2 linked regions of the Homo sapiens genome follow. The protein of the gene in region 1 interacts with the protein of each later gene in a biochemical or structural test. Each region holds a gene or a part of one and is shown in the gene's direction. Other genes may lie near its edges.

Region 1 (3,807 bases):
ACTCAGACCCTGTGCTCTGAAACAGGGCAGAAACCTGTTCAGGAACTTCAATTCCTGATGTAGTTATCACAAACATTGTACCATTTCTGGGTAAACGTAAGCATCCGGTTGCTAATGCCCATAATCCAAACGTGTCACTGCAGAGTACACAGAACTGTTAGAGAAATAAAATACAGAACTTTCCAGAAGCAGCAGGAGCTGGACATGGTGCTCATGTCTATCACCTCAGCAACTCTGGAGGAGTCACCTGAGCCCAGGTGTTTTTTCTTTTTGTTTGTTTTTGAGATGGGTCTTGCTCTATTGCCCAGACTGGAGTGCAGTGGCATGATCATAGCTCACTGCGGCCTCGACCTCCTAGGCTCAAGTGATCCTCCCACCTCAGCCTCCTGAGTATCTGGGACCACAAGAGTACATAAGCACACCCAGCTAATTTTTAAATTTTTGGTAGAGATGGGATCTCCCTATGTTGCCCAGGCTGGTCTTGAACTTCTGGGCTCAAATGATCCTCCTGCCTCGGCCTCCCAAAGCACTGGGATTACAGGTGTGAGCCACTGCACCCGGCCAAGCCTAGGAGTTTGAGGCTGCAGTGAGCTGTGATCACGCCACTGCACCCCAGCCTTGGCAACAGAGTGAGACCCTGTCTCAAAAAAACCAAAAACACCACACACAACTAAAGGTTATAACAGATGTGAAATTGGCGTAGGTCATTCTGGAAGCTGCACACATTAGCAGGATGTTTTGTAGAGCCATCTTCACACAAAATAAGGTTTGCTTTTTTCTGCATAGAGTACCTTATTTGCTTTTAGGACATTACAAGAGAGCACAAAGCAGTGATCTGCATGCTAAGGAGGACATGGAGAGCCTGGAGCCACAGAACTGAGTGGCTGGAGGCCAGGGTCCAGCACAGAGCAAAGTTGGGCACCCCCTGCCCAGTTCAAATGAGGAAACCCTCCGGGGGAACGCGTCTCGGGCTAGGGGCGTTGCACAGAGTGGGGACTGAGTGTCACTGGGCATGAGGTTGTCAGAGGAAAGAACGGGGACCCCTGTGGCTCAGGGAGAGCCTCCCGTTCAGCGCTAGGGAGCCCACGAGGGGCATCGAGATGATGTCATCACCAATGTGTTTCCATTCCAGATCGGGCCCGGGACACCCAGACAGATGAGATTGTCGCACTGAAGAAGGTGCGGATGGACAAGGAGAAGGATGGTGAGCAGGAAATTGGGGTGTTGGGACCTCGCACTGGGAGGAGGCAGAAGGATGTGAGTTACCTGAAGTTTCCTCAGAGCGACTGCACGGTGCTTGTAGCGGGGGCCGGCCTCTGGGAGGGTTCTGGTGTGGCCCAGCACATCACCCCCAGGTCCACACGCAGCCTCAGCTGTCTGCCAGGAGGGCTCTGCAGTCTCCATCCCCTCCTCCCCCTCCTGTCTGGTGAGGCCACCTCACTGCAGGCTCAGCTCTGCTGTCCCCTCCACCCCCAGCACCTGCCTGTGCAGGCAGGGCCCTGCCATGCCCCACATAGATGTCCACGGTGTTTAGAGAGGTGCCGATTCGTATTTGGTCAAGGAAGAGTTAAAAGTGCTTATTGGGCCGGGCATGGTGGCTCATGCCTGTAATCCCAGCACTTTGGGAGGCCGAGGCAGGCGGATCACCTGAGGTCGGCAGTTCAAGACCAGCCTGACCAACATGGAGAAACCCCATCTCTACTAAAAATACAAAATTAGCCAGGCGTGGTGGCACATGCCTGTAATCCCAGCTACTAGGGAGGCTGAGGCAGGAGAATTGCTTGAACCCGGGAGGCAGAGGTTGCGGTGAGCCGAGATGGTGCCATTGCACTCCAGCCTGGGCAACGAGCGAAACTCCGTCTCAAAAAAAAAAAAATGCTTATTGGGGTCGCCCCAATTCTCCCTGAGGTGGGGACACTGCAGCACCTGCTATCAGGTGTTCGTGAAGCCCAAGAGTGGCTGGGGTTGGGGCTTCCCCGCCATCACTGGGGTGGGGCTCGCTGAGGCCACCTCCCTCCCCAGGCATCCCCATCAGCAGCTTGCGGGAGATCACGCTGCTGCTCCGCCTGCGTCATCCGAACATCGTGGAGCTGAAGGAGGTGGTTGTGGGGAACCACCTGGAGAGGTACGTGGTCTCCTGGTCTGCACATTGGGCCCTAGGGAGCATGTGTCTTGGGCTAGAGGTGTTGCACAGAGCGAGGACTGAGTGTCACTGGGCATGAGGTTGTCAGAGAAGAGATGACCCCACCTCACCGCCTGGCTCAGCCCATTGTCTGAGGGGGACACAGGTTGTCCTGCCCATGTCCCCTCCTGCAGCAGGGGAGGCTCCACTTCCACCCCTTAGGAGAAGGCCGGAGAGTGGCATGCATCTTCTGTTTCTTCCAGCATCTTCCTGGTGATGGGTTACTGTGAGCAGGACCTGGCCAGCCTCCTGGAGAATATGCCAACACCCTTCTCGGAGGCTCAGGTGCGTGGCAGAGGGGCCTGGGGTGGGGGAATGGGCTTCATGGGCCCTTGTGGTGCACATTTATAACGAAACAGGGCACTTGGGGACTTGAAGAGCTGCTGCTGCCTCTGCCTCCACCTCCCAGTGTTTCAGCGAGCTTCAGTGAGGTGGAATTCCTGTGGTGGGGGCATCTGCTGGGAGCGGGCAGCCCCAGGGCCGAGAGCCTTATGAGGGCACTGGTTTCCTGGGCTGTTGGGAGCAGGCAGCCCCGGGGCTGAGAGCCTTCTGAGGGCACTGGTTTCCTGGGCTGCTGGGAGCGGGGAGCCCTGGGCGGAGAGCCTTCTGAGGGCACTGGTTTTCTGGGCTGCTGGGAGAGTGCAGCCCCGGGGCCAAGAGCCTTGTGAGGGCACTGGTTTCCTGGGCTGCTGGGAGCGTGCAGCCCCGGGGCCGAGAGCCTTCTGAGGGCACTGGTTTCCTGGGCTATTGGGACTGCTAGTCCTGCTGGCCAGTGTGGGTGTGGCAGGGCCCAGCTGGGCTTCCCTGCAGGCTCACCCTGACTGGTACCTCTGACCCTCTGCACAGGTCAAGTGCATCGTGCTGCAGGTGCTCCGGGGCCTCCAGTATCTGCACAGGAACTTCATTATCCACAGGTGGGTGACAGCTAGGCAGAGTTGGAAGCACAAATTCGGCTGAGGCCTAACTCTGCTGCCCCTGTGGAGTTACTAAAAGCTCAGGGGTTCCCAGCTGCAGCAGCCTGCCCGCTGCTCGCACTCCATTTGTGTTTTTTTCTAAAATAGAGAAGGGGTCTCTCTGTGTTGCCCAGGCTGGTCTCACACACTTGGGCTCAAGTGATCCACCCACCTTGGCCTCCCAAAGTGCTGGGATTACAGGTGGGAGCCACCACACCCAGGCATGCACTCCGATTTTTAAAAGGTCCAAACATCAACAGCATGTAAGAGTTAATGAAAAAAAAAATAATAAAGATACTACGCCGGGCACAGTGGCTCACGCCTGTGATCCCAGCACTTTGGGAGGCCGAGGCAGGCGGATCACGAGGTCAGGAGATCGAGACCATCCTTGTTAACACAGTGAAACCCCATCTCTACTAAAAATACAAAAAAATTAGCCGGGCGTGGTGGCGGGCGCCTGTAGTCCCAGCTACTTGGGAGGCCGAGGCAGGAGAATGGCGTGAACCCGGGAGGCGGAGCTTGCAGTGAGCCGGGATTGCTCCACTGCACTCCAGCCTGGGCGACAGAGTGAGACTCTGTCTCAAAAAAAAAAAAAAAAGATACTAAAAAGCCCAAAGCTGAGGAAACGTGCAGGAAGTCTACGGGCATTGGTGCCGTGGGGGAGCTCTCAGC
Region 2 (3,807 bases), on another chromosome or scaffold:
AGTCCTCTCTTGCCTGCTTTCTCTCCGCAGGTGTCAAGCTAGGGATGCGGTCCATTCCCATTGCCACTGCTTGCACCATTTACCATAAGTTCTTTTGCGAGACCAACCTGGACGCCTATGACCCTTACCTGATTGCCATGTCTTCAATTTACTTGGCCGGCAAAGTGGAAGAGCAGCACCTGCGGACTCGTGACATCATCAATGTGTCCAACAGGTAATGGCATTTGGCTGGGCTCCTGATCTCCACCCGGTGGGGGGGACGGGCAGGGAAGGCTCCTATGGGGCCCTGCCCACCAGGTGCCAGCAATGGAGCTTGGAAGGAAGTACCTGGATGGCCTTGAACCAGGCAGGGCCAGAAACAGTAGCAGCAAACGTGAGAAGGAGCCTGATGTCAGAGGCCAGTGGGGTCTGTGAGAGAAACGCTGGGCCAGATTATGGGGAGCCTCGAAAGCTGGATGGAGGGCAGAGGCGGGGCTTCAGCAGAGGGAGCTTGGAGAGGCATGTCAAAGAAGATTCTGTGGAAGTCTTAGACAGGGATGGCTGCAGGCAGAAGAGCTTGCCTGCAGCGGGAGGGTGCAGACCCAGCCAGGTGGTAGGTCCCAGTTGCTTAGGAGCCTCGCCCTGCTGTGGGTGTGGCGTGGGCATGGCACAGCCGGCCCAAGCAGGTGTGTTCCTGCTGGGGCAGAATGCAGGGTCTTCGCCAAGGCGAGGGAAAGACGGTCTGGGAAATACAAAACTGAGAAATGTTCACTTTTTGGAGTATATCATTCCCATGAGAGGCTTAAACATGTTCCTTGGATGGCTGGACGTGGTGGCTCACGCCTGTGATCCCAGCACTTTGGGAGGCCGAGGCGGGTGGATCGCTTGAGCCCAGGAGTTCAAGACCAGCCTGGTCAACATGGTGAAACCTCGTCTCTACCAAAAATACAAAAATTAGCCGGGCGTGGTGGCGCATGCCTGTGGTTCCAGCTGCTCGGGTAGCTGAGGCGGGAGGATCGCTTGAGCCCAGGAGGTCAAGGCTGCAGTGAGCTGTGGCTGCACCACTGTACTCCAGCCTGAAAGGCAGAGCAAGACCCTGTCTCAAAAAGTAAAAAGTAAAAATAAGTTAAAAAAATACGTTCCTTGGGCCCAGAGTGAGAGCCCCGGGCATTGCCACCTCAGGTGATGAAGACTCCCTAATGCCGGGCTGAGTATAACAGGAAGCACAACCGACTTGGCATGCTCAAGCTTCCGGTTCCTCTGGAGCCATCGCCAACAGCCAGTCTTTGCACTTGACATTTTGCTGAATGATAGCGGACAGCCCATCTGGCTAAAACTAGGAGCTGGCTTCTTTCCTCTGTTGGTTACTGTTTTCATTCTCTACACTAGATGTGGAGATGAAGAATTTTTGTATAAAAACCCAAATAAAATGACCCTCCATGAATCTGCAGATGGACGATGTAGTTTGCATCTGGACATTGTGTGACTTAAGCAATTTGAGCCATCCAGTGCTCAGGAGACTGCCCTGGCTGCTGAAGCATTGCCATTTCTCTGCGCAGGTACTTTAACCCAAGCGGTGAGCCCCTGGAATTGGACTCCCGCTTCTGGGAACTCCGGGACAGCATCGTGCAGTGTGAGCTTCTCATGCTGAGAGTTCTGCGCTTCCAGGTCTCCTTCCAGCATCCACACAAGGTACATACTGGGGAACTGGTGCCTGTTTGGAGAGGCTCAAGCCATGGTCTCTGTTCTTTATCCCAAAAGTGCATCCCATCTCATACTCGAGAGCACAGCACAGAAGGAGAGCAGGGCTGCGGCTGGGAACTGGGTCTCCTGGCTCTGTGTTTGTGGCTGGGTTGGCCGCCCGGCCTCTCCCGTCCCACCCCTGTGGGTTTTCTCAGCCAATTCTCATTTCAGCTTCTGCCTTTCTGCCTGCTCACCTGTGGGCGGGGTCCGTGCTGCCCGCTGAAGCTGTGGCAGCTCCTGTGGTCCATATAGATGGTGTGCACGCTGGGCCTCGGGGAAGCAGGCTGGTTTTGTGACCGGCCAGAGTCCCCGTCCCCAGGGGATGCTGTGATGCCTCGGAGCACGCCTCCAGCTCAGCTGTGCTTAGGAAGCCATGGGGAAAGCCAAATCGCTTGAGTCAAGCAGCATGCTTTAACTTCTAGGAATGTGTGAGTCTCAACAGAAGAACCATTTCAAACAGCAGTAAAAGGGAAAAGTGGAACGCTTAGGCGACTGGCACACGATGCTCTGGGCACCGCAGCTCCATGCACGGGCAGCTCAGAAGGCTGGCCGGAGACAGAGATGGAGGAGTTGTGGTTTGGGGCTCTGGGCTAGGAGTTTCATTCTTTTTCATCGGAACTCTTCCTGAGATCATTGTAGATTCCCATGCAGTTGTGACATGTACCCTTAGCCCAGTCTCCCCCAGGGGTAACACAGCCAGGATGCCAAAACCAACACAGTCCACTGGCATCCTCACTTCCACTTGTATTCCTGTGTGTATATTTTTCTGTTCCATTTTATCACGACTCCGTTCACGGACCTACCACCACAGCCAAGGTGAGAGACGGTTCCACCCGCATGGGCCCTTCGTGTTGCCTTTATAATCTTGCCTCCAGCCTTCCACACTCCCACCTCAGTACCTGGAAAGCCCTGGTCTGGGATTTCTGCGCAGTAGTGTCTTAGTGGGCAGAATGCTTGCTGAGCATCCTGGGGGAAGGTGGGAGATGCCCTGGTGGCTGCAGGGTGGAGTTGTCAAGGCGACAGGGCTTAGGAAAGAGCAGCACTCAGACCTCAAGGGGTGTGTGATCTGTGCCCAGATGGGGAACTGATAGCTTGGTGTGGCTGGGAGCCTGCCAGCCCCTTCCCCTCCTTCCAGTCAGGGCTGGGGTGGAAAGTAACCTATGTATCCCTCCTGCATGGTGTGCTGGGGTCACACGCATGTGTGTTCCAGACTGTCCAGAGAGCTCGCAGCATCTGTCTTATTGTGTGAGGTTCTGGCAAAATGTCAGTGTTCTGAGAGCAGGAGCTGGCAGCTGGGCTGGGAGGTCATTTGGATGTTGTGGCCGAGGACAGCATGTGCCCTTGGCAGCAGGCCAGATGCATGGGGAGCAGCACCTTCTGTTCTGCCCATGAAGAGGGTGCTTTCCGGAGCACCAGGCCCCGAGGAATTTCATGGTGGCCAGAGCGGGCCCTGTGGTGGAGAGGGACTGTGGTGGGGGTGGCCCTCGTAGGTTTCCCTAGAGCTGGGTCTGGAGGGTGAGAGTGGGCAGGTGCATACGGTGAGCTGGTTTCAGGCAGAGGGCTCAGCAAGTGCGAAGGCCCTAGATGGGGTTTGCTGGAAGGCAGGGTGGGATCGGCAGGAGATGGGGCCAGCAGAAGGCCTTGGGGCTTCTTCCTGAGGGACATGGAAGCTGCTGGAGGGTTGGAGCAGGTGCTGATATGATTATGTCAGCATGAGGAGAGCAGCTGGTGGGCCTAAAGGCTGACACACGTGTCTTTGCAGTACCTGCTCCACTACCTGGTTTCCCTCCAGAACTGGCTGAACCGCCACAGCTGGCAGCGGACCCCTGTTGCCGTCACCGCCTGGGCCCTGCTGCGGGACAGCTACCATGGGGCGCTGTGCCTCCGCTTCCAGGCCCAGCACATCGCCGTGGCGGTGCTCTACCTGGCCCTGCAGGTCTACGGAGTTGAGGTGCCCGCCGAGGTCGAGGCTGAGAAGCCGTGGTGGCAGGTGAGGTGGCTGCTTGGCACACTGGACGTGCCCCCTTTCCCTCTGGAAGTCTCTGTATTGCAGTGCTCACCAAATTCTATTAATTATCCATGAAG

The links.
Region 2: the proteins of CDK10 (region 1) and CCNQ form a complex in vitro, tested with the Homo sapiens proteins (one study listed by IntAct).

The regions. Positions count from the first base shown.
Region 1 is NC_000016.10:89,689,421-89,693,227, forward strand, and holds part of CDK10 (cyclin-dependent kinase 10), read left to right. Parts: intron 1-1,132; coding exon 1,133-1,204; intron 1,205-2,022; coding exon 2,023-2,125; intron 2,126-2,385; coding exon 2,386-2,467; intron 2,468-3,028; coding exon 3,029-3,096; intron 3,097-3,807. UniProt on the Homo sapiens protein: Cyclin-dependent kinase that phosphorylates the transcription factor ETS2 (in vitro) and positively controls its proteasomal degradation (in cells).
Region 2 is NC_000023.11:153,592,411-153,596,217, reverse strand, and holds part of CCNQ (cyclin-Q), read left to right. Parts: intron 1-30; coding exon 31-214; intron 215-1,538; coding exon 1,539-1,671; intron 1,672-3,484; coding exon 3,485-3,712; intron 3,713-3,807. UniProt on the Homo sapiens protein: Activating cyclin for the cyclin-associated kinase CDK10.